3 separate regions of the Homo sapiens genome follow, and regions 1 and 3 are each linked to region 2. Evidence: fine-mapped expression QTL. A gene starts in region 2. Each other region holds a variant in brackets. All regions are shown on one strand. Distances are from middle to middle. Region 1 holds the start of LOC105376381 (a long non-coding RNA gene). Region 2 holds the start of NET1 (neuroepithelial cell transforming 1). Region 3 holds the start of LOC105376380 (a long non-coding RNA gene).

Region 1 (10,789 bases), 150 kb before region 2:
GCCCCATCTGCATGTAACGGAAACAGATGGGCGAGCTGGCTTCTGAGTCTCGTGCCCCTGCATGCAGACCCGGGCCCTGGAGGAAGTGTGCCTGCCTGGCTTCAAAGCCATGGCCCACCCTTTCCTCCAGAGCCAGCCTGGCTGTGGCGCTGCCTGGGCTGGTGGATGCCAAGTCTGTGCCTGGACATCAAAACAATGCAGCCTCCCTCTTACCTCATCTCTCCGCCTTTGTGGCGGACAGCTCACGGCCCACTCTGTGCTGGAGAGGGCAAAGCTTCACCTCTGGCGCATGTGCCCCTCCTTCAAGTGTCTCCCCGTCGTGCCGGGTTCCCAGGCAGCTCTCCTCGCAGACCACGGATTTTCCACCAGGCCTTGCCTGAGATTCCACACCTGGGCTCATCGTCAGATTCACCTGGTGGGCTTCTCGGAAGTATCTGCTTCTTGTTTGGTCCCTCAAGAATATTTCCAAAGGTTTCGGGGGAGCCTAGAGATCTGTTTTTTTGAGAGTGTCCTGGGGGATCCTGGCAGCAAACCAGGCTGTAAGATGCATGTCCCAAGCCAGGCTCCCCAAATGCACATTTTGCTGGGCTGCCGTTCTCTTGTGAAATGTTTCCCAGAAACTTTGCCTGCAAAATCTTCCTTTCCTGGAGATTTGTGATCACAGTGACACACTGAGGGACTGATGAGCCTTTACAACAGATAGCTGTTGTCTAAAGGTAAACACACTCTTTTGAGAGAAGATAATTTTTTTTCCTGGCATCACAATGGTTTTTTCTAGGACTAGAGAGGAAAGTCTTACTCCAGATGTTTTCTTACTTCTTCCCTCTTTTCCATAGACACATACCTACCTTGTGCCCATTCTTTCCACGGGTGTCATGGAATCATAAGGGAAAAATGACTGGAGAAATGAATCCTGTGCCATTCATTAACTCATTAGTGAGTTCTCACCTCCCAGGAAAGATAGTTCTGTGATCCAGTTTAAATATTTACATTTCCATGATGCTTTTTAATCGAGGATCTTAACTTTAGAAATATCAGACTTTATGACAGATGGAGAAGGGATTTGGGGGGGACTATGAGCTTTTGAGAGCAAAATTTATTAATTCATTCAACCAGCCAACAACCAATCAACGAACCAACCACACACCAACCACACACTCATTCACTCACCCACCCACCAGCCAACCAACAAATCACCAACTGCCTATAAACCACTAACCATCCAAGCAATCAACCACCAACCAGCCAACCAAGCACTCACCTACCTACCAACAAACCAACCAACCACTCACCCACCTACCAACCAACCAACCAACCACTCACCCACCTACCAACCAACCAACTAATCAACCACCAACCAACCAATTAGCCAATCACCAACCAACCAGTCAAGCACCAACCAACCACCAACTAACCAACCAACCAAAAACCACTTACCCACCAACCAGTCAGCCAACAAACCACCCGCTAACCAACCAACTACTTACCCACCAATGAATCAACACTTTATATTAAATAAGGTGCCTTTAAACAGAAACATACATAAAACAAAGTTATATATGGATTGGTTGACAAAAATGCTATGGTCAGGGCTGGTAGGAACATACCCCATATTTCTCCTGGGAACAATGGTTCAGCATAATTGTCTCTTGGTATCCTTGGGGGATTTGTTCCAGGACCATCTGCGGATACGAGAATCCAAAGATATGCAAGGCCCTGATATAAAATGGCATAGTGTTTGCATATAATCTATGCACACCCTCCTGTATACTTTAAATCATTTCTAGATTACTTATAACACCTAATACAATGTAAATACCATGTAAATAGTTGTTATACTATATTGTTTAGGGAATAATGGCAAGAAGTAAAATAGACATGTTTAGTACAGATGTAACCATCATAGGCCTAATTACATTATCAATCCAGGGTTGGTTGAATCTGAGGTTTTGGAATCCATGGATTCGGAGAGCTGACTGTATTTGCTAATTCACTGTTCTTGGTGACTTTAGAGAACAGAAGTACTGAGAATGACAAGCATTGACTGTACTTTGTCTAATACTGAGAATGAAGGAGAATAAATGAGAATTCAGGAAGCATAAAACAAATTAGTTTACAAAGTCTGAGATAAGCTGGCATTTACTGATGATTTGCTTAGATACAGATCTCCCGGCCCTTAAACGTTAACTACAGTTCACAACCGTGTTGCCTGAGCCCCTAGTTGTTCTCCCTTCTAGCTTCTCTCCATAATTTGGGAGGAATTTGACACTTTTGTGGTCAAAAGCAAGAGAAACTGAGACCCTCTCTGAGGTTCACTGATAATTTTATTCTGTTTTTAAAAATAAGGCCAAGATATAATAAAGTGCACAAATCTATACAGTTTGATGGACTTTTGTGTATGTATACAAGCATGAAATCATCCCTTGAACCAAGGTTTAGGGCATTCCTCCTTAGATTGTTGTAGGTCTGAGAGACACACCTCCTTATACCTGGTGTATTCATCAGAAATGATCCCATGTGACCTTCGGAGAGATATCGCCTCCTATAGCCACAGCAAGGATGTGGTTTTTGTCTTCAGGCTCATTAAGAAGTCCATATATTGATAAAATATATAACATTCACATCATAAAACAAAACAAACCATGCAGATGGATAGGAAAAGAAGGGGTATTGCCTTAAACTATGGTGGAAGACAACATTGTTATTTATTAGTTAATGAGCTGATTCTTTGAAAATGATTAACTTCTAGAATATAGATGTTGAACAAGGTAGCATTCCTCCTTATCACTGAGCAAATATTTGTGGATGGCTATTTGGATGCTAATAAAATGTATTGAGATCAATACCTTCTTCATAATTTTTGGCTCGTAAACATTTTGTTCATATCCTGGAGACTCATGTGTGCAGCACGTGTTTTTCACTGGATGTAGCAAAGCTTGTGGGGTGGCTTTCCTTCATAATTGTCTTCTGTGGATTTATGGTCAGCTTTTGTTTCAACAAAATCAACTACCAAAGAAGCTTGTGACCATGAGTTTGTGAGAAATCTTCAAATTCATTTTTGTTATAGGTGGTATTTAGTAGGTTTTTGTTCGTTTGTTTGTTTGTTTGTTTGAGACGGGTCTGGCTGTGTCACCCAGGCTGGAGTAGAGTGGCGCATTCTAGGCCCACTGCAACCTCCGTCTCCCTGGTTCAAACAATTCTGCTTCAGCCTCCTGAGTAGCTGGGATTACAGGCACATGCCATCATACCCAGCTAATTTTTGCATTTTTAGTGGAGACAGGGTTTCACCACGTTGGCCAGGCTGGTCTCGAACTCCTGACCTCAGGTGATCCACCCATCTCGGCCTCCCAAAGTGCTGGGATTATGGTGTGAGCCACAGCACCCAGCCTTTTTCTGAGAAAAAAAGATAGATATGTAATAATCTTGCATGATAGGTTTTTTGTTCTGTAGGGTTCTCTGGCAGCCCCTGTTTTATCCATTGGACCAACTGTCTGTAAAGGCAGGTAACTTACTTACTTCTTTCTCCTGGAGAAGGACTTTTTGCCCTAACCGAAGCACACTAGTCACAGAGTTGTCCTAGTGACAAAGACACAAATTGAAGCTGCACTCAGTACTCATGGCTGATCAAGGGAAGTGAGCTCATCTCACCTTGACTCACAGCGATGACAGGTTCAAGCCCCTGCATGTGGGCCCGTTCCTCAGAGGATGTTTGCAATGGGGGTGGGGGTTGCCATGGTGATGCCCAGTCAACAGAATGGAGAAAAGAGAAATTTGGTTTGAAATGAAATTTGAGTCTTGAGAGAGGGCTGATATGAAGGAGAATCAAACAAGCCACATGGGAGCATCTGAAGGCCTGGAGATAAGGGCCTGTTGCATGGCTGTGAAAATTTGGCCTTTAAAATAACTAGGCATGGGCCAGAAATCACAGCCGGCGGCTGCGACCACCCAAGTGAGTCAAAGGGAGCTGGATGAGAAGGTGGGGGGCACGCCTGGGTTAGGGTCCTTGACAGTTTTGTCCAGATTGGGTTTGAGTGTGGGGTGTCCTCATGGGACTCTGGTGAGTTGGGGGTGGGAAAGGCGGTTGACTCCTTGGGGGCTGGTCACCACTCAACAGCTGTTCTCCAGTGGCACTTTATGAAGCAATGTTAGCAATGGGAGCTCCCCTGCCAAGATGTGGGTGGTCGGTACCCAGTGGCTTTCAAAGCCAGCAACCCAGGGATCTCACAGAAGTCCATCAGCCTGAAGGCAGGCACGTGGGAGATGACTAAAACCAGGTGATGTAGGCAAGAGGTACCCTCAGAACGCCCTCGAGTTGCCCCATTGTTCTTTTCTGTGCTGCCTGTGTGTGCAGCCGCTGAGCTCCTTGTGTTTTCGGGAGGTGGAGTATGCACCCCTGTGGGCTCATCCATCCTCGCCCTCATCATCCTCCCTGGCACCGTGCAGACTCTGAGCTTCTGCCCGCCCCACCCAGGTGTCTCATCCCACCTGCCTCGGGGAGCCTGGCTGAACAGCAGGCACCACCCTGAGCCACCCCTTCCCAGCCAGAGCAGCTCCGGTCGGAGGCTTCCTCCCAACAGGCGGGCTTCTTAAGCCTCCTTAATCTGCACGGAGGAAATTCAGAAATCCAGTCATCCTGAAACCATCTTCCTTCGGGGCAGGACAGAACCCGTGTGTGTGGGTAGATGAGTGTGGATGGTGGGGGTGGGAGGCACATTTGTCATCGTGCTCAGCCCAGAACTTCCCAGATGTTCAGGCCAATCAGGGTGAACCCTTGAACTTCCCTGGGCCTCTGATGCCCGGCTAGTGCCTCAAAAAGCCTCATCCGCGGGTGCTTAAAAAAAAAGACTTGAGGCTTCTTTACAGACACAGCTCATTCTAGAAATCTTCCAGCCCCAACATCACCAAAGGCGAAGAGAAGAAGGAAACTCACTATTCTAGCAGTCCCTGGGCCAAGAGCCTGTTAAGCCATTTTACGAGCCGTCCCCTAAAACATGACAATTCTGCCAGGCAGGTGTGGCAGAAGCGGGGCTATGTCTTTCCCAGAACACTGCAGCTTCAGCATGTCCTGCTTGCAGCCGGGGCCCCTGGGAGTGATGCTGGAGGACACCACCTCCAGGCTGCCCCAGAAACCTCCTGCCCAATACTCACACCGTCTCTCTTCATCTGTTGACCACTTTAGGGCAGGAGATCCAGCGGGGGACTATGGAGCTCAGTGGAGCTGCGGCCTGGGAGAAGCCCACCCAAGAGAACCATGTAACTAGAAACCATCACATTCGGCTTCGTGTGAGGGAGAAGCAGGTGTTTCATTGCACGCAGTTACTGAGATCTGGGGTTGTTTGTTATTGCAGCAAGGACCCACCCTAACACACGAGGTGTTATATGCATTTTACAGATTGCCAAGATGGTACAGACAGCAGAAGTGGCAAAACAACACTTAAACTCAAACCTGCCCAACTTCAAAGTCCACGCCCTTCCCTGGGCTTCAGACTGCCGTCTTTGATGCTATCTTTCATTGAGATGTTGTTTGCATTAAATGGGGGATCTTGCGGCACACGGTGGACCTTGCCCAGCACCCACTCTTCCTAGGGCCAGCCTTACTCTGTGGGGTCAGCCTTTGACCGTCTGGGCC[A/G]TGAAGGTGGCTGATGAGGCCCCTTCGACAGCCAAGTTGGGGCACAATCTCCTCCGGATGTTGTTATTCCTTCACAGTCTCATCGCAGGCGGGGAGGAAGTCAGAGGGCTGATTTAGAGGACAGAGATACAAACAGAGTGAGCAGAGGATGTTTGGCTGCAGTTGCTCCAGAGTTTCAAGGGAGAAAACACAAGCATTGCTGAGCGGCCATTAGGGGCTTGCACGCTCAGCTGGGCACATGTCCACACCGAGGCATCACGTGCGGTCTGAGCTGAGCTCTCATCTCTGGGTTTCAGGACTTTCAGCACAGTCCTGGCCCTTCACGTTTAGTCTGGGTGATCAGGGATGTAAACCAGCAATTGCAAGGTGGTGAAGCACCACCGTGGAAGGGCACCAGCCGGGCCCTGGGGTCACAGAAGTGCCCCAGGAAGTGTGGCCGTTAAGCCTGGTGAGAGGAGAGCGAGCCGGGAGGACGGTGAGAGACAGGCATGACGGGGCGGTGAGTGTGACTGCTGCTGAGCATGTCTGAGACGGCAGGCAGTCACCAAAGGCTTGTAAGCAGAGGCAACACCCTGACTTGTGGTTTGGAGAGATCATGGTGACTGCCGTGCAGGGACGGAATGGAGGCTGCTCCAGTGACTCTGGCCGTGGGCAGTGGTGGGCGGGTGAGGGGACAGAGGAAAGTGGATGGAGTTGCTGCCCCCACAACCCTGCTGAGAAAGTGCCCACGGGACCTGGCGGGGTGTGAGTCACACTTGGGCTGCTCTGCCTGGCTCTGCACCTATTTCGTGAGCTGGAAGGGACAGCCTGAGCCCCGTCCCTTGGATGGACATCAATGCAGGAGTAAGGGTCTGTCTCTGAAGCTCTCTGAGCAACGGAAGGGAAGGTGCCCACTGGGCTCAATGCAGAGATATTGGGGCTGATGTGGCAGGAGGGGTGGGTGTGCAGGCCCGGCGGGGAAGGAGACTTCCAAACAGACGGGCTGCCCCACGGGGAATCTGGCTGGGGCCAGTCATTCTCAGAGTCAAACCATCTTCATTCAACTCCGAGGCTGCCCCAGGCCAGTAGCGTCCTTCCTGAGAGCGCTTCCTGCGAGATTTATGAGGCAGGGGCCAGGCCTGGATCGTAGAAAGCTAGAGAATGCCTTGGCTGCCCAGGGAAGTCTGGAATTTCTTCCAAACCAAGCTTCCAGACGTCCCTCTGGACTCCTCTGTCTGAGAATGGGCACTTTAAAGGCCCAGGAGAGAACTCCCATGACACCGTTTTCCAACCTCCCATCTCCCCTCCCCGGCAGCTCCCCATTTCCGGCATCTCGGCTTGGCAGGACCCCTCCAGGACCTCACTCCTCTGAGACGCACTGCAGACCTCACAGGTGACAGCAGCGTTTTGCTGACTCAGAGGCAACTACCACGATGACCCTCCAGCCCGTGTCCAGACCTGGGGCAGCGACTTGGACAGGGGGCTGCAGAAGTGGGTCTGTGAGGGGGACCTGACGGGGGGCTGCAGAAGTGGGTCTGTGAGGCGGACCTGGGGGGGCAGCCCTGGGGTGGGCTCACTGGGGTTCACTCCACCTCGAAGACTTCAATTCCAGCTCTGGCTGGTTTTGTTGGATTAGGAACACACAGCCAGCCAAATCTTGGTTACTAGGGTGCCAGAGATCACGTGGAGAAATGAAATAAAGAGAGAACCCCCAAACGGTGGTGCTGCCATGCATTGGAGCCTCTCGCCCCAACAGCATTCTTACTTTATTTATTTATTTCTCATCCACATTTTGCTGGAAGATTTTGCGCATTCATAATGGCAAACAGAATATGGCGATAAGCTTCTGTGTACACTATCATCAACAGCTTTCAATTCCTAATTAACCTTATTTTATCAATATTCCCCATAATCCCCCATGCTGTTTCTTGGCAAATCTAGATGACCCACCATTCCAGCCTTAAAAATTTCAGTGTATAACTGACCAAAGCTTTTTATTAGAATTGCTAGGTAGGGAGGAAATTTAAGTTTCTATGACTATGCCTAGTAAAGTTTGAAAAGAAGACAACGGGGGAAATAGACATTGACAATTCATATTGAATAATTGCACAGAGACAGTTCCTTTGTTTGAGGCTAAACCGAGACAGAGCCTCAGATACCCTCACTCACTCCTCTCTGGCTGAGAGGGGAGGAATTTTCGTCTGGGTCAGGGAGCAATGAGGTGGGAGTTTTGTGCTTCGGTTCTGGGGTGGAGATGGAAGGTCATAGGTAGCAGTCCAGTAACTGGCCCCATAAATGGTTCTGTGAGGCAGAAGCAGCTGCTTTGTGGAGGACTTGTGAGACTCTGAGGGAGGAGGAGGGAGGGCTCACGCACACCAAGGCGGCCCCCATTGTTTGGGTTTTGGGAACCCTGGGAGACAGTGGCCGTGGTCTCTGGTTCCCCTCACTGGGGCTCCAGGAGCAGTGGCCATGTTCAGACCAGAACAAAGGGGTCAGGACCAAGAGGATAAAGAGATACAGGCATGGCTGCTGGTGGGACCTGGTGGTCTGACAACAGAACACCACAAGACATCCCTCAGGGACCGTGTGTCCTTTAGAGACACTTCCCTCCACAGGGATGTGGCCATCAGATGTCTGTCCAACCCGAGAGCTAGCTGTGCAATGGGCCCAGTGTGGAGGTATAGCCAGTGGGAGGGCTGGAGCCATGGTCGGGAGTGGAGGGGTTGCCTGCAGTGCCTGTGGACGGGAGGGGCACCAGGAGAGGAGGGTCTGGAGGGGGACACCAGGAGAGGGGGATCTGGGGGGAGATACCAGGAGAGGGGGATCTGGGGGTATACCAGGAGAGGAGGATGGCGGGGGACACCAGGAGAGGGGGACCTGGGTTTTACCAGGAGAGGGGTACCTGGGAGGATACCAGGAGAGTGCACCTGAGTGGGACACCAGGAGGTGGAGACCTGTAGGGGGAATGCCAGGCGAAGGGGACCTGGAGGGTAACACCAGGAGAGGAGGACGGGGGTGGGGGGACGCAAGGAGAGGGGCAGGGCTTGGAGTCACTCTGCCATCTTGGGCTCCTCAACTTTGGGATGCCAGCTCAGCCTTTCTGAGACTGGGTTTCCTCATCTGTAAAATAGAGGGATCTCCCCACAGAGCGTTTGTGAGGATTAAAGGATCAATTCCAGAAAAAGGCTCAAAGCAACGCCTGTCCCGCGCCCGGCCCACAGTGAAGCTGGGCGTCGTTACTCCTGCTGTGGTCACTGGTGGTGTGAGGACCGCAGCACAGGGCAGGAGGGACACGGCCCACAGGGCGTCCGGCCTCCTTGGCACCTGCTCCAGGGCCCTTCCCGTCACCTCCTGGCTCCTCCGTGCACGTCTTGCTCCAGCGCTGCGTGGCCGCCTGTCCCCATTGCTCCGGAGCCCTTTACATTCATTTCTCCTCACCTGGGACCCTCTTCCTCCCCTCTCTGCAGTGGAGGCTCCCAGCCTTGTCCAAGGGCTTCCTGGGAAGTCACTTTCCCTCCGAAGCATCTCATGCACCCTCCGGGCACCCTCACCCCTCCAGAGGTCCTGTGGCTCCCCAACTAGTGGGTGACACTGTCCTATTGCTGGACGCCATGGCTTCGAGGGCCTGTGTTACCCTTGGGCAGGGCCTTTAGTCCTGCAGGCTTGGACTCTGTCTTATTCATCCAGCCCCTGCATGCCTGGCATGGGCCAGGGCCTGGGCTGGGGGCTCAGGAGATGTAGTTGGATCTGAATGCTGGGTTGGAGAATTCTGTAAACACATAGGATGCAGGGTGAGTGGCCGTATGGGACATGAGCAAAGTCCTCTGGGAACCTGAGGCGCAAACTCTGAGTTCATTTTCACACCCTCCATGGTGCACACTGCCATATACCAGCAGGTGCCCCCAAACGCACAGCTGAATGACAGAGAGAAGTCAACCCGTGCAGGCTTCATCTGACTGTCTCCAGACGACTGGGTCCCTGGCCCTGGGCGAGCCCCTCCCGGAGGGTCTCCCTGCATTCTCTGCCAGGTCTGGGCCCAGGACCATCCTCTGGGGGATGGGTGTGTTGACTGCTGGCTGTAGAGTGTGGCCTGTATCTGCCCCTCTCTGGGTCCCACCCTTCTGGGACTGTCTCAGATTTGAGGAAAGGAAGATGGATGTTGTCTGGTCCGGTCCGTGCCTCACCGTAAGGTGTCGTGTTGTGCTTTTGGCCACTGAAGATTTTCCCTGGTCTCTGGAGCTCCAGCCAAGCTCTCTGAGCGCCAATATCATGTTTCCGTTTTCCCGCTGTTCTCAACAAGCAGCTATGGATTGACTGGTTGATCGCAAGGCTGTTTTAAACAAAATAGAATATATTTCTTTCAAGAAGTCCAAAGCTCTCAGAAGAGCATTTCCAACTTATTTCCAATAATCTCTAATCTCTGAACAATGTCAACCCATCACTCCTAGATCTTTCAGGCACTCCCCATCCCCCCACGCTGACCCTTTCCTGTCTCACACACACTGTCTGGAGATAAAACTGTGGGGGGCGGAGGTCTGGGAAAGAGAGAGAGACACATACACACAGAGAGTCAGAAAGAGAGATCAGAGAGACAGAGAGACAGAGACAGAGACAGAAAGAGTTAGTGAGATCAGAGACAGAGATTCAGAGAGATCAGAGAGAGAGTCAGAGAGACAGAGACAAGAGAGAGGGACTCAAATATGTTTCAGACAAGAACCTGAAGCAATTGAGTCAAAGTTCTGCAAAAAAAAAAACCCACGAAATTTAATTTTAGATGGAAAAAAAATGACGAACCCCTTTGAGGCCTGCCTGTTAGTTTTGGTTGTGTGTCATTGTTTAAATATTCTTTGCATTTCCCCTCGCCAAAGACTCTAGTTAAATTAGAGCCAGCTTAAAGCACGCTTTATTTATGGCCGTGCCTACCCCCAAGCCTCGGGGTTGTTTTGAGCCAGCAGGGAAGGTGTACTTAATATAGAGCAGGAGGGTATGTGTGCAATGTTCTTTGAATGATGATTGCAAGGTGCACAGAGAAGATTTGACTTTATTTAGACATTCGGTTTCTTCACAGTCTCCTCTCTGGAAGGGCTCTTGGCTTCCTCTCCAGACAGCATGTGTGTGGTAAGGAAAAAGCCTGCATGTGGAGGTCTGTGGGAGGAGGTGTGACTGCAGGATCGGGGTAAA
Region 2 (10,789 bases):
AAACACGTATCATGCAAACAGCAAGCCACAAGAAAGCTAGAGTAGCTATATTAACATCAAACAAAATGGCCTTTCAAAGAAAAAAATGTTACCAAAGAGGGATATTTTATAGTGATAAACAGATTGATCCATCAGGAAGATACAATTACAAACATATGTGCATATAAAAACAGCACAATCTCAATAAATGTAAAAGGATAGAAATAATACATAATACAAAGTGTATTTTCCAGCTGCAATGTAATGAAATTAGAAAAAATTTGTGAAAGTCACAATTATGTGGAAATTAAACAATTCATTCCTAAATAACTAATGGCTCAAAGAAGTCAAAAAGAAATCAGAATTTGAGATTAATGATAGTGAAGACACAATATATCAAAATTTATGAGATGCAGCTAAAGCAATGCTCAGAGGGAAATTTATAGCTGTATCCCTATATTAAGAAAAAGATCTCAAATCAGTAACTTAATCTATAATCATGACACTGGAAACAAAAAGGGCCAACTAAACCTAAAGCATGCAGACTAATCTGAGCAGATTACTCAGATTACTAAGCAGGAAGAAGGAAACAATAAGGATTAAAGTGAAAATAAAACAAAGAATAGAAGAACAAAGAAAATTAATGAAGCTAAAATCACATTCTTTGGAAAGATCAAGATTGACAAGACTGTAGCTAGATTGACCATCATCATAAAAAGAAAGAAGACACAAATTACAAGAATCAGAAATAAAAGAGGGGACATTACTATTGACATTACATGAAAAGGATTATAAAGAAATACTATGAACAAGGAAGGGTACACCAACAAATTAGATAACTTTGATGAAACAAATTCCTAAAGAGATACAACCTACTGAAACTGACTTAATAAGAAACAAACTATCAGAAGACACCTACAACAAGAGATGAGATTGAATTAATAATAATAATAAACTATCCACAGAGAAAAGTCTAGGCCTAGGTGGCTTTACACTGAATTCTACCAAACATTGAAAGAATACCAATTCTTCACAAACTCTTTCAAAAAAAACAAAACAGTAGGGAATACTTCTTAACTGATTTTATGAGGCCAGTATTATCCCAATACCAAAACCAGACAAGCATAGTACAAGATAATAAAACTACAGATCAATATCTTATGAATATATATACAAAAATATTCAACAAAATATTAACAAAATGGATCCAACAATATATTTAAAAAAGCTATACACAATGACCAAGCAGGACTTATACCAGGAAGGCAAAGTTGGTTTAACATCCCAAAAAATCAATTAATGTAACACATCAGTAATAACAACAACCACATGATCATTTCAATAGACAAAAGAAAAAAAACCCTAAAACCTTTCATGATAAAAACCACTCAAAAACTAGTAACAGAATGGAACTTCCTCAACCTGATAAAGGACATCTACAAAGCTTACAACTAACATCATACTTAATGGTGAAAGATTGTATGCTTTCCCCTTAAGATCAGAAACAAGACAAGAATTTCCCGTCTCTCCACTTCTGTTCAGCGTTGTACAGGAGGCCCTACCCAGGGCAATTAGGAAAGAGAAAAAAGTAAAGGGCATCCAGAGATTGGAAAAAGAAGTAAAACTATTTTTATTTGCTGATGACATGACCCTGTACACAGAAAGTCCTAAAGAAACCACTAAAAAACTATTAGAACTAATGAGCTCAGCAAGGTAGCAGGATCCAAGATCGATATACAAAAATCAATTGTATGTATTCCTATACAATTGAAATTATTAAACTGAAAATAAAGTGATACAAAGCGGGGCAGGGAAGTGCTGCGTAGAGGAGAGCGTGGTCCCTTGCTAGGGCTCCATCCCCAGGCCTGGGCCCACGGACCTAAGTGAGGATAGGCATTTCTGTTTTCCTACCCAAATGTTGCATTTCCCAAGACCACCCTGGCTCACCACACCCCCATCCTGTGCCTATAAAAGCACGCCCCCACCTGTGCCTATAAAAACCCCCCGAGACCCTAGCAGGCAGACACACAGGTGGCTGGATGTCAAGAGGAACACATCGACGTGGGAGTACACCAGCACGCTGGCAGGCCAGCTGGCAGGCCATCGATTCGCAGAATGACGCAGAGCTTGGCCAGGGAGGTTGGAGGAGAATCGGGCAACCTGACACCAGGGCAAAACCATTTCCCTTCTGGCTCCCCCATCTGCTGAGAGCTACTTCCACTCTATAAAAGCTTGCAATCATTATCCAAGCCAACGTGTCATCTGATTGTTCCAGTACATCAAGGCAAGAACCCTGGGATACAGAAGGCCCCCTGTCCTTGAAATAAGGCAGGGGTCTAACTGAGCTGATGAATACAAGCCGCCTACGGATGGCTAAACTAAGAGTACCCTGTAACACAAGCCCACTGAGGCTTCAGCTGTAAACATTCACCCATAGACATGGCTATGGGGTTGGAGCCCCACAGCCTGCCTATCTATATGTTCCCCTAGAGGTTTGAACAGCAGGGCACCGAAGAAGCGAGCACACCTCCAGTGCACGCCCTGCGAGGGGGAAAAGGGAACTTTTCCCATTTCAAAAGAAATGAATCCATTTACAACTGCATCAAAAAGAACAAAATACTTAGGAATAAATTTAGCAAAACATGCAGAACTATACTCTGAAAACTACAAAACACTGTTGAAAATAATTAAAGATCTAAATAATTGGAAAAACATCCCTTGTCCATGGATCAGACTACTTAACTCTCTGTAGAGGGCAATACTCCTGAAAATGATCTACAAGATTTAATGCAATCTCTATCAGAATCCCTGTGGACTCCTTTGTAAAAATCGATTAAGCTGATTCTAAAATTCACATAGAATTGCAGGAGACCCAGGATAGCCACAACAATCTTGGGAAAAAAAGAACAAAGTAGGAGGACTCACATATCCCAATTTCAAAACTTACTATACAAAGCAACGGTAATCAAAACACCATGGTAATGGCATAGGGCTATTACATATAGATCAAGAGAATAAAAGTCAAAGTCTAAAAATAAACTCTCATGCTTAAGGTCAACTGATTTTTGACAAGGGTGCTAAGACTACTCAGTGGGAGAAAGAACAGTCTTCAAAAAATGGTGCTGGGGTACCTGGATAGACACATGAAAAAGAATTAAGTTGGACCGTCATCTCACATTATATACAAAAACTAACTCAAAATGGATTAAAGACCCAAATATAAAAGCTAAAATGATAAAATTCTCAGAAGAAAGCACTGGGGAAAGGATTCATAACAATGGATTTAGCAGTGATTTCTTGGATGTGACACCAAAACACAGGCAACAAAAGCAAAAATAGACAAGTAGGACTACAAACTAAAACATTTTTGTGCTTCGAAGCACATCATGAAAGTGAAAAGACAAACCACAGAATAAGAGAAAATATTTGCAAATAATCTATCTGATAAGGGACTTGTATCCAGAATAAAGAACTCTTAACAACTCAATAAAAAAGAAATTTAAAAATGAACAGGGCCAGGTGCGGTGGCTCACGCCTGTAATCCCAGCACTTTGGGAGGCCGAGGCAGGCAAATCACAAGGTCAGGAGTTCAAGACCAGCCTAGCCAACATGGTGAAACCCTGTCTTTACTAAAAATACAAAAAATTAGCCACACGTGGTGACACATGCCTGTAGTTCCAGCTACTTGGTAGGCTGAGGCAGGAGAATCACTTGAACCCGGGAGGCGGAGGTTGCAGTGAGCCGAGATCATGCCACTGTACTCCAGCCCCGGTGACAGACTGAGACTCCGTCTCAAAAGAAAAAAAAAAAAGAGCAAAGGATGGCCCACCAAAAATGGCCACACACATTACATAAATCCATTCATATGCAATGTCCAGAACAGAGAAATTCCTACAGACCGACAGATTAGGTTTTAGGGCAGAAGGGGTAGGAGAGGAACAATAGCTAAAGGGTACAAATGCTCTTTTTGAGGTGATGAAAATGTTCTAAGTAGTACAATTTAAGTGGGTAAATTGTACTGTACGTATTTGTCTTTCAAATTAGTTTATACTGAGTTTTGCCTGCAGAACGTTTTTCAATAGTCACATAATCATACACACAAATCTTTTTCCTTATGATTTCTGAATCTGATACAGTGCTTAGTTGCTTCTTGCCTCACAATTAATACTATCTTGTAATATTTTACGTATTCTTGTAGATGATCTTACATCTTTTCTGGAAAAGGAATATGTTATTTAATTCTCCATTTTCTCTCCATGGTTCTTCTAACTGTGTCTCACTCTCCTCATGCTGCCTGTGTTACTACGCTTTTCTCACAATGTATCATTTCCTACCTCACACAAAAAATAGAGGCCTGGTGGGAAAGTCCTCAAATTCCTGCTCACAACACACCCCATTCTTCAAAACTATATATCATCCATAGCTTCTTGTTAGGCTAAATCCTCTACCTTGAATTTGGATTCTGTCCTTTTCTGCCTTCTTGGATCCTTGTTCAACCATTTTTCTCCTCTACTGTCTGTTCAACCTCTCCCTCTATTTGTTAACTCAGCACAGCACATCAAGGGAATTTATTCTTTCTTAAGAGTCTATCCCACAAAATTGTGTTATTTCTCTCTATTCTTTCTTGTCTTCCTGTTGCAGTGAAACTTCTCTTCACCAATCCCATTGCCAGCTATCAGATTCGAACAATCATTTTTTCATTTAGACTACTGCAGACTGATTTCCTACCAATCCATCAGCTAAACTTGGAAATTTTAATTTGGTATACACAGCTGGGTCCACAAATCTCCTGAAATGTTTATGTATATGTGCACATTTTTGGGGAATAGTTTTCATAAAATATGAAGAGTGAGATGACTCCAAAATGTTGCTTATTTTTCTCATGGAAGGCAAACTGATCTTTTAAAATGCAAATATGTCATGCCATTGGCTCATTTAAAGTCTTTCAGTATTTCCCCATTACCATGAAGATAAAACCCAAACTCTGTCAAGGCATACAAGGTCTCTTCATGATGTGGCGCTTACCTCTTTAGCATCATCTCTCATGACTACCTCCTCCTTCTCCCCATATTGGTTTCCTCTCCTCTATACAAATATCACTGTTAATATAGTAATAAAATAGAATATATACCCAGAACTCATCAGACTCATTTGCTTCAGGGCCTTTCTACATGCTTCTCTGCCTGAAATCATCCATTTACATCTGCTCTCTAAACTGGTCCTTAAAGACTCAGGGATTACAATAGGAAATCATTTCCTATTCTCTCCAGTCAGGATTAAGTGTTCCTTTTAATCTACGGCATTCTGTGTATATCACTATAATAACTTTTATCACATATTATAATAATTATTAACCTACTTATCTTTCTTCCCCACTAGATTATAAATCTTAAATAGTAACAAGAGTATTTTTCCATTTCCATATTCCTAGTGTTGGCACTCACATTATTTTCTGAACAAATCGCACATTCTCTTCTCAACCTGTTGCAAAACACTCTAAGTTCGATATTGTAACCATTCTTGGAAACCATCTAAGATCAATACTCTCTTCTCATTACCAAATTTAATTTTCATTCCTCATCTAGCTTAATCCTCATCTTATTTTACTTAATCCTCATTTTATTTGACCTATCAATAACATCTGACATAGCTCGCCACGTCCTCTTCTTGAAATTCTTTCTTCATTTGGCCTCCTGGATACTGTTCTCACTTGGTTCCCTTCCTCCTAATTCACTAGCTATCCCCTGAGCTTCGCTTTGTGAAATTTCACTGAGCCAAACACGAGTCATACACTCTCATTTCAATGTATACTTCCACAAAAAGTAAAAAGAAAAAACACGAAAATGGTTGTGATGAACTCTCTAATAGGCATCTCATAACATATCCCGAAGTCAACTTATCCCTTAGTCTTTTCTTTCTCAGGACATGGAAGCCCATTCTCGTGGTGCTCACCATGACAGTTTCGGTCTGAGCAAAGGCATTTGGGAACGCCAGCCTACAGCCAGTTGGGTGTGCAGAACAAAACCATTGTGGTTTTTCCTAAGTCTCCCCTGAGAAACAGTCAGGAGGCGAGGAGACTCAATAAACCCGCCCCTTTGCCACAGGCAGGGAAAATCGCAGTTTGGGGTCTCAGGACCGACCTCGGTCCAAGGCCAGGCACACTGTCACTCCAGCCTGTGCCACCCTCACTTCCAGCGGCCCCCGTCCCCCCCCCCAACCCCGCGGTCACCTCCCCCACCCCCCACTCACCTCCCAGCGGCCCTCGCCTCCCCCTGGCCCTCACCAACACCCCCACTCGCCGCCCCCCACATCCAACTCCCGGCCAGCCCTCCCCTCCCCCCGGCCCTTGCCTCTCCAACACTCACCTCCCGTTCGGCCCTCCGCTCCCCTACACTCACCTCCCGTTCGGCCCTCCCCTCCCCCACACTCACCTCCCGTCCAGCTCCGACCCGGAGGTGTCGGCCGAAGGCCCCGTCGCTCCCTCCGTGCTGAGCCCAGAGGCCCGGCGGCTTCGCCTCCGCGGTCGAGGCTGCTTCTGAGCCGCCAGCTCGGGCTCCATGGCACGGAGGAGGGGGTGGGGCGGTGGCCGGGTGCCCGGGAGACCGGCAGGGACGGGCACGATGCCCGCCAGCCTCTGCCAGGCAGAAAGCGCCTGTCAGCGGACTGCAGCCGCCACCGCCGTCATCCGGGGATTTGAAAATGGCGGCTGAGCAGCGATCAGCCAATCAGTGAGCGCGCAGCGGTTCCTAGGAGACGTGGAGTCCCGCCCCTCCACCGCTCCCGGGATCTACTTGCCTAGGAAAGAACCTAGGAAAATTTGCCCTTAACTCCTGAGCGCATCCCTGAGTCCCTAAGGCCCGGTACCTCCTTCATTGTTCATTAGGACTTTCACTACAGGCCAAGGCAAATGGACTGGAAGCATTTTAATTCACCAGATCTTTCTTAGCATTTGAGGAGAAGAGAGGTCCAAACTAATGACCTGTAAACAAGGCATGTTTATTGGCCATATTCACACTGAATTATTGTGCACGTGGCCAATATGAGATATATTTCCAATTACCAAAGGTTATGCAAGTGTGTTCCCGGGACTGTCTCTAGGGAACCAGCAAAATCTAATTATGAGCCCTTATGTCTTCCAATAAGCATGACACAGTCTCTCCCTAGCAAAACAGAATGAAGTGACTTCATCCTTTGCTTGTAAAAGTCAGCAAAAGACATAATATAAAATAAAAGACCGCTTCAAGTAAAAAAAAAATTGTTAAACAAATTACACTTTCTTTGATTTTAAATATTGCTTTATATGTGTCAAAGTCTTTAAAAATAGCTTCTCCTGACCGGGCGCTGTGGCTCACGCCTGTAATCCCAGCACTTTGGGAGGCTGAGGCAGGCGGATCACGAGATCAGGAGATCAAGACCATCCTGGCCAACATGGTGAAACCCTGTCGCTACTAAAATACAAAACTTAGCTGGGCAGAGTGGCGCATGCCTGTAATCCCAGCTACTCAGGAGGCTGAGGCAGGAGAATTAGTTGAACCAGAGAGTCGGAGCTTGAATTGAGCCAAGACCGTGCCACTGCACTCCAGCCCAGTGACAGAGCGAGACTCCGTCTCCAAAAAAAAAAAAACAAAAAAACACTTCTCTTTTGCCAGTATATTTCCACTTATGGAAATTTATCCTAAAAAATAAAATTATATAAACATGAAGCTATTAATGACATTGTTTATAATAGAAACATTTAAAACAACCTAAATAAACAATGATTTATAGCTCATCCACTGAGAAGAATATTTTCAGCCAACAAAAATGAAGTGTGAAGTATGTAATAGTATACTGGTAATTTGAAATAAAAACATGAAGTATAGAGGTATATTCAGTATATTCAAAGTTATGAATTACAAGAGATTATACAAAGAAAAAAGATAATGTATTAAAATGTATTAAATGTATTAAAAAGTCAATGTATTAAAATGTCTCTAGGTAGACTTTAGGTATTCAAAATTTTTATTTTTATTTTTTGCATTTAATTTTTTTAAAAATAAGGACATATTGAATTTGCAGTACCTTTATAACATGAGGGAAAAATGTTTTTGTTTTAAAAAGAGTAAGAAATTAGGGAGTAACATTGAGATGTGAAGCCAGCTAGACTTCCTGGGTAGAGTGGGGACTTGGAGAACTTTTCTGTCTGGCAAGAGGATTGTAAAACACACCAATCAGTGCTCTGTAGCTAGCAAGAGGATTGTAAAATGCACCAATCAGTGCTCTGTAAAAAGCACCAATCAGCAGGACCCTAAAAGTAGCCAATCACAGGGAGGATTGAAAAAAGGGCACTCTGATAGGACAAAAATGGAACATGGGAGGGCACATATAAGGGAATAAAACCTGGCCACCCCAGCCAGCAGGGCAACCCACTGGGGTCCCCTTCCACACTGTGGAAGCTTTAGTTCTTTCACTCTTTACAATAAATCTTGCTGCTGCTCACTCTTTAGGTCTGTGCCACCTTTAAGAGCTGTAACACTCACCATGAAGGTCCATGGCTTCATTCTTGAAGTCAGCGAGACCATGAACCCACCGGAAGGAACCAGCTCTGAACATAAGTTGACCTTGGTCAAGAACCACTTCTGTTCTACCTTCCCCATCCCTCCCCAAAAATTAAAGAAGAAAGTACTGCTTTGTAGCAGTTAGAGTGTAAGAATACAGAAATGTTCTTAATATTTGGGGAGTTGGTCTCCACCAAGACAGAGCTTCAGAGGATGCAGATGTTTAGATTATGAACAAAAATAAACCTGTAAGAGCAATTCTTCAAGTCAGGTCCCAAGTAGGTCACAACTACTCTGTGTCCAGAAAACTCACACCCCTTTGGGATTTTCACAATTTACCCGAATTGACCAATCAGGGCTCACCTGATGTAACCGATCAGAACTCATCTGCTTTATCCAATCAGGGTTCAGCTGTATTACCCAATCTGAACTGAGCAAGTCTGAATCTTTCCTTTGCATAAACACATCTGATTGGAAACCTGGACAAGAACTTTTTCTATAGAAGCCAAACCCTCCCCTTTATTCTCTGGAATCACCTTTCTTTTACTCCGAAGGCTGTGTCTCCCTGGTTTGCAAACTGTTCACTAGAATAAAGTCTCCTTTCTCCAAACTTCCTTTTCAGAGAACTTTTGTTCACAAGATAGGACCATGTGAATCGCTGACGCTTGGTCTTTTTACCCACAGAAACAGCCGTTTCATATTAATAGTTTCAACATACTTCGGTGAGATCCTCAGAATTCAGGGTCTGTCCTCAGCTTTGCAGGTCCTGAAACTGGTTTTGATTGTGTCATCAGAGGTGGTCAGTCCTTTGGTAACTTGTAATAACTACTCACAAAATGATAGATACTGCAGGATGTCAATGTGGGGATTCCAGTGGTGGGGGTGGGCACTTCTTTCCAGTGACCTGAATACTATTGTTTTATGCAGAGCAACTGTTTCCAATTTTCATTCACTTGAGAACTTATGATTTTGTTCAATTATTCACAAGAATTTATTAAATTCCTGCTATAATATGCCAGGATCTGTGCTAGACATTAGGGAAATAAGGAATAGAAGACAAATTTTCATCAGAAAATGGCTGGGTACCATAGAAGAAGAGCAAAGAAAAGTGACCGCTCTGAGGGTTGGTCATTGAAGACCTGGGAAAGGCTGGTGACATCTCTTGATCTTACAAGAGATCAACTTTCTGGTGTCTGAATGCCATTGTCCCCATGTTCTATGTCTTACACTGTATAGAACAGTCCCAAAACCATGACAAATGTTCTCTGAATCCTCTCTCTTTCAGTTCCCCACAAATCATCCTTCTCCCTTAAAATATTCACCGGGATAGGGTTTGAGGAAATTGTTTTGATTTCAGCTTTCATATATATAAAATCAGACTCTAGAACTCCCTCTCTGAGAAGATATTCCTACTAACTTGACTAGAGCAAAGTGTAACCCAAACTTTTTCAACCATGGATTTGCAAAACAAATATTCTTTTGGGGAACTTCCTCAAAGATTATTTCCAAAACCTTCAGCCCTATGTGATGACACCAATCATTTTGCAAGTTGATATTAAATAAATTCAACAATCAATAAATGAATGTAAATTATTATGTAAATCAATAATTTAAAAACCTATTTTCTTTCATTATCTAAGTAAATCAAACTATTTTTGCAAAACTGCTTACCAAGTTTTATATATATATATATATATATATGTATATATTAGAGTACAAAGTGTTCATCAAAACACTTTATTAATTTCCAAATTATTTGATGATTTTGATGTGATATTTTGTTTGCCATTGCTATCACTAGCTAAATGATTCCCCTTTGGTCTGTAGGCTCCCATAGAAAAATGTAGCAAATTTGCAAACAATGACCTACCATTAGAAAACTAGTAGTCTTAATAACTAGAGAATTGCCCTTTGCATCAACGTTTTTCTTTTTTGTCTGAATCTTCTCATAGCTTCTCATGAACTAACAGCAATTACATTCAGGAGAATGAATGTCTGTATGTGTGCATATACATATAATTTATATATAGAATGTTATAATAAAGTCTGAAATTTTTAAAAATATATTTACTATATCTACTATTGATTAATTTACAAAACTGTTTATTAGACTGTAATTTTTAATTGGGTCAAACTTAATTGTTCCTGCCAAATGAAAGGGAGTGTAGTCCAACAGCTAAGTATGTGGACTGCATTGATTGTCATTCTGACAAGCAGAAGTGTACTTATAGGCACAATAGGGCAGAATATTTGAAATCAGGTTTGTCATCCCT
Region 3 (10,789 bases), 140 kb before region 2:
AGCATTCCCTGATGGGCAGATGACCCCTCCGGCCTCTCTGTGCCTCCTGCATCTTCCTGCCGTGGTCACCCTGGCCACCTCCTTCCCGATGAGCCCAGCCCTTCCCCGGCCACCTCCTTCCCGATGAGCCCAGCCCCTCCCCGGCCACCTCCTTCCCGATGAGCCCAGCTCCTCTGCAGCACCCACTCAGCTCCGGGGACCCTTGCGCTCCCCACGACATGCCACAGGGCACACTGTTGAGTGACGCTGGCCGGTTCTCCTGGTTCTGCCCAGAGACCCCCAGGGGCGCTGCTCTCAGGCCTCTTCCCTGGAGCACTGAGCTTCCCGGCCACGTGTCGCACAGCCTCCTGGCAGCCTCAGGGACAGATACCCCTCAGCCAGGCAGCCCAGCGGGGGGTCTCAGGACCTGCTCCCTTGGCTGGTAGTTGGAATGCGGGGGCAAAGAGCAACTCCTTTCCTACCCTTCCCTCGGGGAAAGGGGAAGACATGCCCTGTCCACTCCCAGACCCTCCCAAGGGAAAAGAGGCTGCAAAACACCATTTGGTGAGAGGCCTGGTGGAGCCAGGAGACGCAGGCGCTCAGGGAGAGACAGGCCCCTCCACACCGGGGCCTCCTTCTGGAAACTTAGTTAGAATTTGTCCCTGAATTATAATAAGACAGCCTCTACTTTGAAAAGAAACCGGCTTTGATGTATTGTTTGGCGGCAGCTCCCCAACACTGAGATCTGACGTGCCCCCAGATTCCCTGGGCTCAGAAAACAGGACACGCCGAGGACATAGAAGCCTGGGTGAGCAGACCCCAAGGGAAGCCCCGGTGTTAGAGAGGAACCTCCCTCCGGAAAGACGCCGGGTTCCTCAGAGGGCCGTTTTCATGTGAGATGGGGATGTTTTATTGGGTGCAGTGGCAGGACCAAGGGCTGGGAGCAGGGAACCTCTGGGCTTGCCCTGGAAGCTTCCATATGGGGGCAGCCAGGCAGAAGCCTGTGGGGTGAGTGCTGCATGCCACAGGGGTGGAGGAGTGGGCTCCCTGGAGGAAGATCTCCTGATCCTCAGGCCTCCTCCAGCACCAGGCGCAGAGCTTCCGCCACCAAGGATGTTCCAGCAGAGACCACACAGCCGCGTGGCCTGGACTCGAAGCCATCGAAGTTTTGAATCTCTAAGTCCTTATTTCTTGCCAGCCCAACTATTAATAAATCAAAAGCTCCTTGGAGCGTTGGTTTTTATTTTCTTCTCCCCTAGAACAGTGTGGAAGGAATGAGTGCCTGCTGCCCATGGCCAAGAGACCCCTGACCCCTGGTGATGAGGAAGCTCTTGCTTGTCACTCAGCCCCACATGGTCTGGCATTCACGAGCCCAGTCATCACTTTCTAATCAGGAGATGTCTTATCCTTTTATGGTTTTGTTCCCACCCTTGCGAGGTCAGCTGAGGGTTGACCCTTTGTCTCAGGAAGGTGGCAGGAGCCAGAGAGGAGCAGCCCGAGGTGCTCGGAATTGTACCTGCTCAGGAAGCCAGGCATAGAGTCCACGAAGCTTCACTCCTGAGCCCCTGGGGAGCATTCCTGGCAGCGTCGGCACAGGCAGAACCATGGAAGGAGTCGGCGTCCACCCCGGGACTTGGTGGTACCCAGTCTTCTCCTTGCACACAAATGCCACCGTGCCTGTCATTCAAGTATTGCTTTACCTAAAAGGCTTGAATTTGGAGGGGGAGGCAGGGGACATTTTCATCTCCTAAACAAGGTATTTCTATAGTATAGTCGTTGCTTATCAAAATCACACCTTACTTTTGAAATTTAAAAACATGCAAAAAATATATTTGAGCAGTTCTCCCTTGGAGTAAGGGGATCCCCATTACAAGTGCAAAATCCTCCTTGAGGGGTAGAACCAGCTCATTAACCCCGTCACTCCCTCCGAACCCTTAAGCATGGCTAGTTTGTTAGATTACATACCACAGAATGATCTGGAAAGAAGGATTGCATAACTCGTCAAGGAGAGTGTTGGTTTTGGGCATGGCATGGGGGTGGTGGGTTGGCTGGGAGGGAGATGTGTAGGTCTGAGGTCCCTGAGAAATCCCAGTGTCACAACATGGCTGAGCCCAGGGCATTTAGGAGGCTGTGGGCTAGAGGGCCAGAGTCTTCCAGCTGTGCTTCTCAGAGACCTGGGGGTCGGTGGGAGGTCTTCTCCCATCCCCTCTTCAACTGCAGCTTGGCTGCTTGGCTGTGCTTTATAGACTGGCTTAACTCATGAGAGTCCATCGGAAGGGCTCTTGGCTAAAAAAAAGTGTTGCCAGGTGCCGTGACTCACACCTGTAATCCCAGCACTTCGGGAGGCCAAGGTGGGAGGATTGCTTGAGCCCAGGAGTTTGAGACCAGCATGGGCAACATAGCGAGACCCTGTTGCTACAAAAAATCTAAAAATTAGCCTGGTGTGGTGGTGCAGGCCTGTAGTCCCGGCTACTCAGGAGGCTGAGAGGCAGGAGCATGACTTAAGCTCAGGAGTTCAAGGCTGTGGTGAGCCATGATCATGCCACTGTACTCCAGCCTGTTCAGCGTGCAATGGCACAATCATGGCTCACCACAGCCTGTGCCTGTGACAGAGACTCCAAATCTAAAACATAAAGAAAGGAAAAGAGTGTGAAGCTGCTGATGCAATCCCCTTGTCTCAAGTGATAGACAAGATGTCTGGGGTTCAAGATTGCCGATGTGTCCACGGGCATGGGGTGTTGGTGCAGCCCTGGACCTGGGGCAGGGGGCTGTGTGCAACCAGGCCTGGTCAGCATTGCTGTCGCTACTACTCTTGTGCAACAAGTGGGGACAACACAGCGCAGCACGGAGCGTTTTCTGAGAAAGGCCGGGGGGTCCGGAGTGTGAAAGGACACCTCAGGGCTGGGGCATGGCAGGGAAGGCTCTGGGTGCTGAGTGCTTGCAGTCCAGGGGGCTTCGGAGCTGCTGAGAGAGGACGAGCCTTGGGTGCTTGACAGTTCTGCGGACAGTTCAGAGGCTGCAAACGCTTCCTGACTCCCCAGGACTGGTATTCTAAACTTGGAACTCGCAGTGCGCTCTTGGCGGGCTTCAGAAAGTTCACGAACACCCTGAACTTGTACCAAAACATTATGTGCATGGGCGTTTCTCTGGAACCGCGGTCCAGGGCGAGGGAAGTTTGTGATAATTGCATTTTTGAAGGAGCAAAGGACCCCTGCTGGGGTACGTCACATGGGGACCCAGGGCCCATCCTGTCTGGCCCTTTTCTCTCCACTTCAGCAGGAAAACACACACACACACACACACACACACACGAGTCTTCAAACTTGGAATAGTGATTGCACTGCTAGAATGCTTATTTGTGTGTGCAGGTGTAGCTTTAGAGATGGAGGCAGGGAGAAGGACTATGCATTCTGAGAGAGGGAGGGATTGAGAGAGAGAGAGAGAGTGTGTGTGTGTGTGTGTGTGTGTGTGTGTGTGTGTGTATGTCAGCAGGAATCTGAAAGTACAGCTTGGTGACTGTAAGGGCTGGAGGTGTCGGTGTTTTCTTGCCTGTTCCTTCTCTCTGAACAGAGCTCTCTGTTTGGAAGACCTGTCTTAGCTGTTCCTTCAAAAGTTCTGTGTGTTCTCCTCTGATCTGAGCTGACTTTCGGGGCATGGCTCCAATGGTTTGCCAGCAACTTAGGCCAACGGCAACAGCGGAAACCGAGACAGCTCTGCAAAAATATTTGTTTAATTAGCAGAAACGATCTGTGATCAGAATCCATGTTTAACGACCTGGCTTACAGCCAAGCTCAACACATTTTCCTTCAGGACTGTTTTTGGTGTTGAACTGAGCAAATTCAGCTCTGACCTTCATCCTGGCTGGGGGAGGGGAGACGCCCCACCCTGCTCAGACCCTGGGCTTTTTATTGAAAGGCAGTGCCAGGCACACTCTGATGGGTCTTGGGGGAGACCAAGGGTGCCCTGCTCAATGTCAGCCCTGACTCTGTGCCACGTGCACTCAGCTCTGCCACGGAGGTGCATGGCTCTGTAGACGTGGACGGTGAGCTGGGGAGGAAGGTGGTCTTGGAGAGAAATGCCCCATGGGGAGCTGAGACCTGTGTGTCATGGGATCATCCTGGATTTGGCTTAAAATCCACGTGGCTGTGGAAATCCCAGGGTGCACCGAGGATCTGTGGGGGAGCAGGGGTAAGTCCAGGTGAACCTCGAGCTGTTCTCAGCCCTGAGGTTTGGGTCACTCCGAGAGCACTTGGGTCTCTGCCGAACGGCACAGATCATTCTCAGGCCCTTACAACCATCCGGGTCACTCTAGAATTCCTTTTAGGACTCCTGGGCTGGGCTGTGGCTATTCAGGACTCTGGGTAAGAGCCCTTGGAGTCACCTGGGAGGTAGAATCGCCATTTTCTAGCAGCCATCTTGAATGGCAGATTCCCTGCAGTTCAAGCTGGGGCTGCCCAAGGGGTTCTGGGGGGTCCTGGGTGCCTTCCAGTTGCCCCTCCAGGTGCACCCCCTCCTCCCCCAGGACACTGACCGGCGGGGGCCATCGTGGGGGACCTTGTGCTCTCTGGCTCTGGCTGGCTCAGCCAGTGGGAGCCTGTGGGGCTGGGAGGGAGGAGGGTGTGATGAGGCATCTCCTTCCCGCTGGGCTCCTCCCCACCTCTTTCCTCCTTTTCCAAGTCCCCTGACCATCCCTCCCCTATCTCTCCAGGTCTCTTAAATTACCACGGTGCCAGCTACATGGCCCGGGTGGGTGGTTCCCCACACTGCCTACCCCTTCATACCTCGCCCCATTACACCCTCCTGGAATCATTCTCACTGGAGGCTGCACCGTTTCCTGCTGCCCACGATGAACAAAGCAGGAAACTGTCTTTT[C/G]CAGACTTCCCCACGAAGTGAGGTTTTGACGACCTCATTCTCCAAGAGCAAACCCAGCCCCTGGAGTCCGTTCTTTCCCTGCGCGCGTGGACACCCCTGCAGCAGTGGCTCCTTTTGGTGGCCGCTCTTCAGACACGTGCTAGAGAGCAATCATTGATGACAACGTTTTCTTTCAAAAGGCCCAGAAAACAAAATTAAATCTTGGGACTCGAAGCTTCCTGGGCCTGTGCCACGAAGGCCCATGCTTAGCCGGTCTGGTGCCAGGCTCTGTGACGTGTGGAAACCAGGCCCACCGACCACACAGCAGTGGCTGAGGATGGCTCCCTCCTCGGCTACTCTCTGAAATGGTAGAGGCCACTCTCATGGCTGAGTGGTCTCCGCCGTTCTGCAGAGGTGTGGATAAGAACAGGAGTTCCTGCTTGTCTCCTAGGGGTCCGTATTGAACGTTGGCAATCAGTGGAAATCCTGTCTCAGGCCCTCTCGGGGCCCCACACTGATCATTGTATTTAAATCCTCCCAGTGTCCTGCAGACACCTACCTCCCAGACCAAAGAGGGACCTTGCTGGTGGCCAGGAAACAAGCTGAAGCACAGAGAGGAGAGAAAGAGACAGAGTTGGGTCCTCGGGTCACCTTAAAAGGCTGTGAGACTTTTTGCCAGGGCAGGGCCTGGCGGGTGGTGGAGATGCAGGATGAAGGACTTAAGGAGGGATCTTTTACTTTCAGTGTGAAAGTGACCTGTGTTTTTATGAGGGGGCTAGAGAAATACTCAGAATCTGAGAGCAGGCAGTTGGAGTGGGATCTCAGCAAACTTCCGTGTCTGCATGGTCCTGCAACCATCGCCCTGGACAGAGGTCTCAGCTGGGTAGAGATGGACGGTTGTCAGGGCACAGCCTGTCCTTAGGGGGTGCTAGGAATGGGGATTGGGGTGAAGAGGAGTTCAGGAAAGAGGGGTGAGGCATGGGGAACCTGCTGGCTTAGAGGATGCAAAGGGGCAGGTTTTATGGACGCTTTATGCAGGTCCCTTTCATAAAGATACTTGCCCAGCCTGAGCAGAAACCCACACCCTAGAGTTTGTTTCTTCCCTGTGGGCACCCCCCGCCCCCGCAGCAGCGGCTTCTTTCAGTGGCAGAGGCTGACTCTTTTTGCAGCTTCTCCAGCACTTGCAAATGCAACTTCCTTGCACCCACTTCAGACACTTTACAGCTGGAACCCCTTCCTTCAAGGTTAGGGGCCCAGGCCCACAGCCCCTACCTCCAAGTTTCCACGTTTGAAGAATCCCAACCTTTTCCCTTTGCCTCCTCAGCCTCAGGGGTGACACCTCAGAGCTCCTGTTTACCTCTTTAGCCACCAGGTTAGTAATTTTACACCCATGCAAGTGTGTACAGGAATCTTCCGGATCCAAGTGGCTGGTGTGGGCGTTGTCTTCTGTCTGAACCCTGGCCCTTGTCTGTGCAGATTCCTCCCCTCCTGTCCGGGAGAGAAGAGACAGTTTCGATGTCATGTGGAGACAGGAGGCTGTGGTCAACGAGGGGAGGCTGTGGTCAACGAGGGGAGGCTGTGGTGGGGGGTGGCGTTCTGAGTCACTTGGCTGGCTTGGGAATGTGAGCTGGGCCAGGTGCACCTTAGAGAGCCTGGGTGGTGCTGGGGACCTTCAGGCTCTGGAGTCCTGGGTGACCCTGACAGGTGCATGTACCCACATCTCCTTGGCCCCTGTCTCTGTTGCTAATGTCCCTGCACAGACCCCCCCCAGCCGTCATTTACAGATTCCCAGCAGTGAAGCACACGGGCTTAGGTTAAAATCACTGAGCCCCTTGCACAGCGGCCTTCTGGTCCCCTCTGCTGTAAGGCAGGACCACCTGTCAGCCCCTGTCTTCTGGGGACCCCACTAGGCCTAAGAGATGAGGCTGTGGGGTTCTGTCTTCTGGAGGCCCCACTAGGCCTAAGAGATGAGGCCGGCGGCGGAGGTCTGGCCTGGAAGAGAAATGTGGTGAGTCACCCCAGGCCTGACAGATTCACTCAGACCTGGTCCTTCTGCTCCTAGGCTGAGCCATCTCTCAGGGACCCTCCTGCCCTCCTTCACCTCTCACCTGGCCTGCCCCAACCAGTTCTCCAGGCAAGCCCAAACCAGTTCCACCTGGTTTGTGACTGTGTTTGGAAAGAGGGTCTTTGCCGAGGTAATTAAGTTAAAATGAGGTCATGTGAGTGGGCCCTGAGCCAGTCTGATGGGTGTCCTTACAGGAAGACATTAGGACTCCCAGAGGGTGACTCCAGGGGCAGGTGGCTTGGAGGACTGGCCGTGCAAGGAGGCAGCAAAGGGGCGGCCATCTGCAAGCTGAGGGCAGAGGCCTTGGAGGAAGCAGCCCTGCCAGTGCTGGTAACTGTGAGTGCATCTGTCTCTGTTGGTCAAGCCGGCAGCCTGGGGCATTTTGCTGAGGCCGCCCCAGCCGCCTAGCATAGTCGCCAATAAGTCCCCGAGGTTCTGGTGTGCTCTCTGGACTAGTTTCCTGGGGTGGCTGCAACAAATTGCCACAAACACAGTGGTTTAAACCACGCAAATGTCGCTCCCGCAGCCTGCAGGTCGGAAGTCCAAACCAAGGTGCTGGAAGGGCTGGTTCCTTCCGGACCCTTCAGGGGAGAATCTTTCTGCCTCTTTGGCTTCTTGAGGCCCCTTCCTGGCATTGCTTCTTTCTCCACTGACTCCTACCATCAGCGCTGAGTCCTGCCTGCCTCTTATAAGGTACTTCTTTCTCCACTGACTCTTACCATCAGCGCTGAGTCCTGCCTGCCTCTTATAAGGCGCTTCTGGGATGACTCCTGGTGCACCCAATAATCCAGGGTCATCTCTCCAGATCCAGGTTCATAACCCAATCACCCCCACAAAGGGAGGTCACGTGTTCCCAAGCTCCAGGGATCAGGAGGAGGGCATCTTTGGGGGTGATACTATGCAGCTGACCACAGCCTCTCTCCACCTGGGCTCCCACACCCACCCTATTCTGCAGATCTTCAGAGGCCACCTGGGATGTCAGAAGCTTCCAGGAACCAGGAGGTAGCTGCATCTCCTGTCCCTTCCCTGAGTCACCTTGCTGGACTCCACAGTGTGGTGCAGACAAGAAGCTGCAGGGGACAACATGGAAGGAAGCGGGGATGGAGGAGATGGAATGGGATGGGCTCTGGGCCCGGCCAAGCAGAGCAGGATAGGGCTGAGAGTCATCTGAGCACAGGTGGTTCAAATGGCAGAGAAGCTCCACGCTGGAGCGGGGAAGAGCTTGGGCTTTCCGGCCAGAAAGCGCAGGTTTTGGCCACGGCTCTTCTGCCACTCACTAGATGTGGGAGTTTGGAGGCGTTACCCGAGCTCTGAGCCTTACTTTCCTCATCTGAAAAATGGGAATAATGGTAGGGTTAAATTAAACCAAATTTGGTCTGAGGATGCCTCTGCACTTTGAGTCCAACTGCGACCTTAGCAGCAAATGAACTGCAGGCCTAGCTTAGGAGTGTACTTTTGTAAGAAATAGCCGAGTCTTAGCCAATCACAGCAGCTGAGCTTCTATAAATCGCAGGTGGCTGCTGAGTAGTCCATGTTCAAACACGGCAAACCAAGCTGTGACCAATGAGCTGTCTCTGCAGCTCACTTCCATTTTCTGTCTATAAACACTCCCTGCCCACACTGTGGAGTGGAGCTCAGCCCTTGGAACCTCTTCTGGTCTGAGGGCTGCCCACTTCATGAATCCTTTGCTTAATTAAACTCAATTCATTTCAAATGAAACTCAATTGATTGCTAGATTAATTTAAATTTAATTCGTCTAAAGTTTTCTTTTAACAGTTCCTACCTTGTTGAGTTGTCGTGGGAATCAAGTGGAAATTTCTTTTTCACATGGAAAGGGCTTAGCATAGCCTGGCACGTGCTGAGTGTTCAGTGCACACTGGTTATGATGATCACAGTTAGTGTCTCCATCTTTGGTCTGTTCAGCGCTACAGTGTTTGGGGGCCAGCTAGGCAGTGCTGCAGCTGCAGCTCTGTGTGTGTGTGTGTGTGTGTGTGTGTGTGTGTGTGTGTGTGTGTGGAGGGGGCTGTGAGATTGGCGGGCTCAGGAGAAGATGACTACTAGCTGTTGCCAAAGTTTCTTTTCTGCAAGGGAAAGCCACAAGTCACTGGCTCCAATGTGGACTTTTAAAAGGCCTTCCTTCCTTTCTCTCTTACTTCTGGGGAGCCCATGGATAGGAAATGGCACTAAACTGACTTCATCTCTGTACCCTGATGCCTCCATCGCCCTCAGAGTTTACGCCCTCGATGAATCACTTAGAGTGAACTGGGAGCTGTGTATGAGGTGACGTCACCCTGAGATAGAGCTCTGTGGTCACTGGGAGGTGGCTGTGTGCGTTATCTCCCTGTGGCATGCCAGGAGGCGTGTGTGTGTGCACGAGTGTGTGTGTGCATGCATGTGCATGTGTGTCTTTGTGTGTGTGCAAGTGTGTGTATGTGTGTGGATAAGGGAGAGGGAGGGAGGGAGCTGGGCTGTCTCCCCTTCCCCACAAGTGGACCCTGCAGCTCAGAGCCGGAGGTGTGAGCTGAGTTTGGCGTTTGTATGTTGCTTGAGTTGGAATTTGAACTCACAGGGGACAGGAAAGGATGCCTGTCCCCAGGACTGACTAACGACATCAGGCCTGGCTATTGAACTTCCTGCTCTGCAGATCCTGGGTTCTGGGAGGATGAGGAAAGGATGAGCGAAGGCTGGGGGATCTCTGGGGTGGGGGTGGACTCAGTGAGTGGAAAGAGTAAAGGTGTTGGGGGTGGACTCCCTGTCTGTGTGACCGCTGGCAAAGTCCTTGACCTCGGCCAGTCTGCGTTTCCTGATCCAGGCAGTGGGGACATGGTCCTTTCCCTCAGAGGGGTGGTGAGGATTCAATGAACTCCTTTAGGTAGAGCTTGCTCAGGAGCATCAGCTGTAACACCTGTCCTGGAAGGTTGCTAGGTGCCCTCACCCTTTGTTCTGTGCCCACCTCTCTCCACCCCCTCTTCAGCCCGGATCCAGACGAGGCCTGGGGAAAGTCTCCCAGAAAGCGCCCTGACCAGGGCGGTGCCAGCTGGGTTCCTGTTTGCCTAAACCCAAGCAGCAAGCTCTTCAAAGGAACCTAACAAACCGGACAGAGAGCTTTGTTTTTTTCCTCACAGCAAAGGAGACAGAAAAGTTTGCTGAGTAAGTCAGACACCATTAAACTCACAAAAAGGCTCTTTGTTCCGGCCTGAGAGGGGGTGAAAAAAATAAGCGAAGTGGTCGAAGGGCGTGTGTTTGCTTCCGTGTTCTTGGAGTGTTTGGGCAGGGCTCACCCAGCTCACTCTTCCTGCTCTCCCCCATCTCTGAGTCCTCTGCCCCTGGTGATCCCACCTGTTATATCAAAAAATTGCACCACGGCCCAGCCAGAAGGAACGGCTAAGGGCTGTTAGTCCAGCCAGAGTTTCACTTTTAAAATGATGCTACCTAGTACTTAAGTTAGACGCTCCCGCAGGGCTTTCCTGTGCTTTTTCTTGTTGGAAGTGATGTGACCGAGGCTCTTGCCAAAGGTCAGTTAGTTGCTGTCTGAGCTGGGCTTGGGACCAAGCCCCTCGTACCCAGCCTGTTGTCATTTACTGTCATCCCTAGTGCTAGCTGTGGAAAAGTCTGCTTGATTCTAACCCTTTTGTCTCTAGTACAGTGAGATCTATGCTAAGATTTGTTTGTCCTCATTAAATTATAAATTCTTCCAGGCAGGTCACTATGTGGCTGGTGCCCCCCTGCAGTTGTGCAGTGTGCAACCTGTCAGACTGAACATGGCAGCCCTGCTTCTGGGGTTAATACAATATTATTGATTCATTCTTCCAGCAGATGGAACAATGCCTGTGGGGGGCAATTATGCCTTTGCTTCTAAGACTCGTGCTTGTAATGCCCAAAATCCAGTGTCAC

What was found. PIP is the estimated chance that this variant, and not a neighbour inherited with it, causes the effect.
Region 1: its variant is fine-mapped to the expression of NET1 in whole blood (TOPMed, PIP above 0.99).
Region 3: its variant is fine-mapped to the expression of NET1 in whole blood (TOPMed, PIP above 0.99). The same link has a PIP of 0.9 or more in T cells and blood mononuclear cells.

What each region holds. Positions count from the first base shown.
Region 1 is chr10:5,559,696-5,570,484 of GRCh38, reverse strand. LOC105376381 (a long non-coding RNA gene) reads left to right here and starts at 3,604. Exons shown (of 2, transcript XR_001747274.2): 1 at 3,604-3,949; 2 at 5,180-7,324. RefSeq lists a silencer at 6,315-6,541 and an enhancer at 9,254-9,755. The variant A/G (reference allele first, on the strand shown) is at 5,630.
Region 2 is chr10:5,408,442-5,419,230 of GRCh38, reverse strand. NET1 (neuroepithelial cell transforming 1) reads right to left here and starts at 6,674. Exons shown (of 12, transcript NM_001047160.3): 1 at 6,411-6,674. The coding sequence starts at 6,538. RefSeq lists a silencer at 6,333-6,762.
Region 3 is chr10:5,547,443-5,558,231 of GRCh38, reverse strand. LOC105376380 (a long non-coding RNA gene) reads left to right here and starts at 6,155. Exons shown (of 4, transcript XR_930611.3): 1 at 6,155-6,202; 2 at 7,090-7,231; 3 at 7,422-7,588; 4 at 7,851-8,614. RefSeq lists a silencer at 159-481 and enhancers at 3,685-4,207, 4,208-4,731. The variant C/G (reference allele first, on the strand shown) is at 4,852.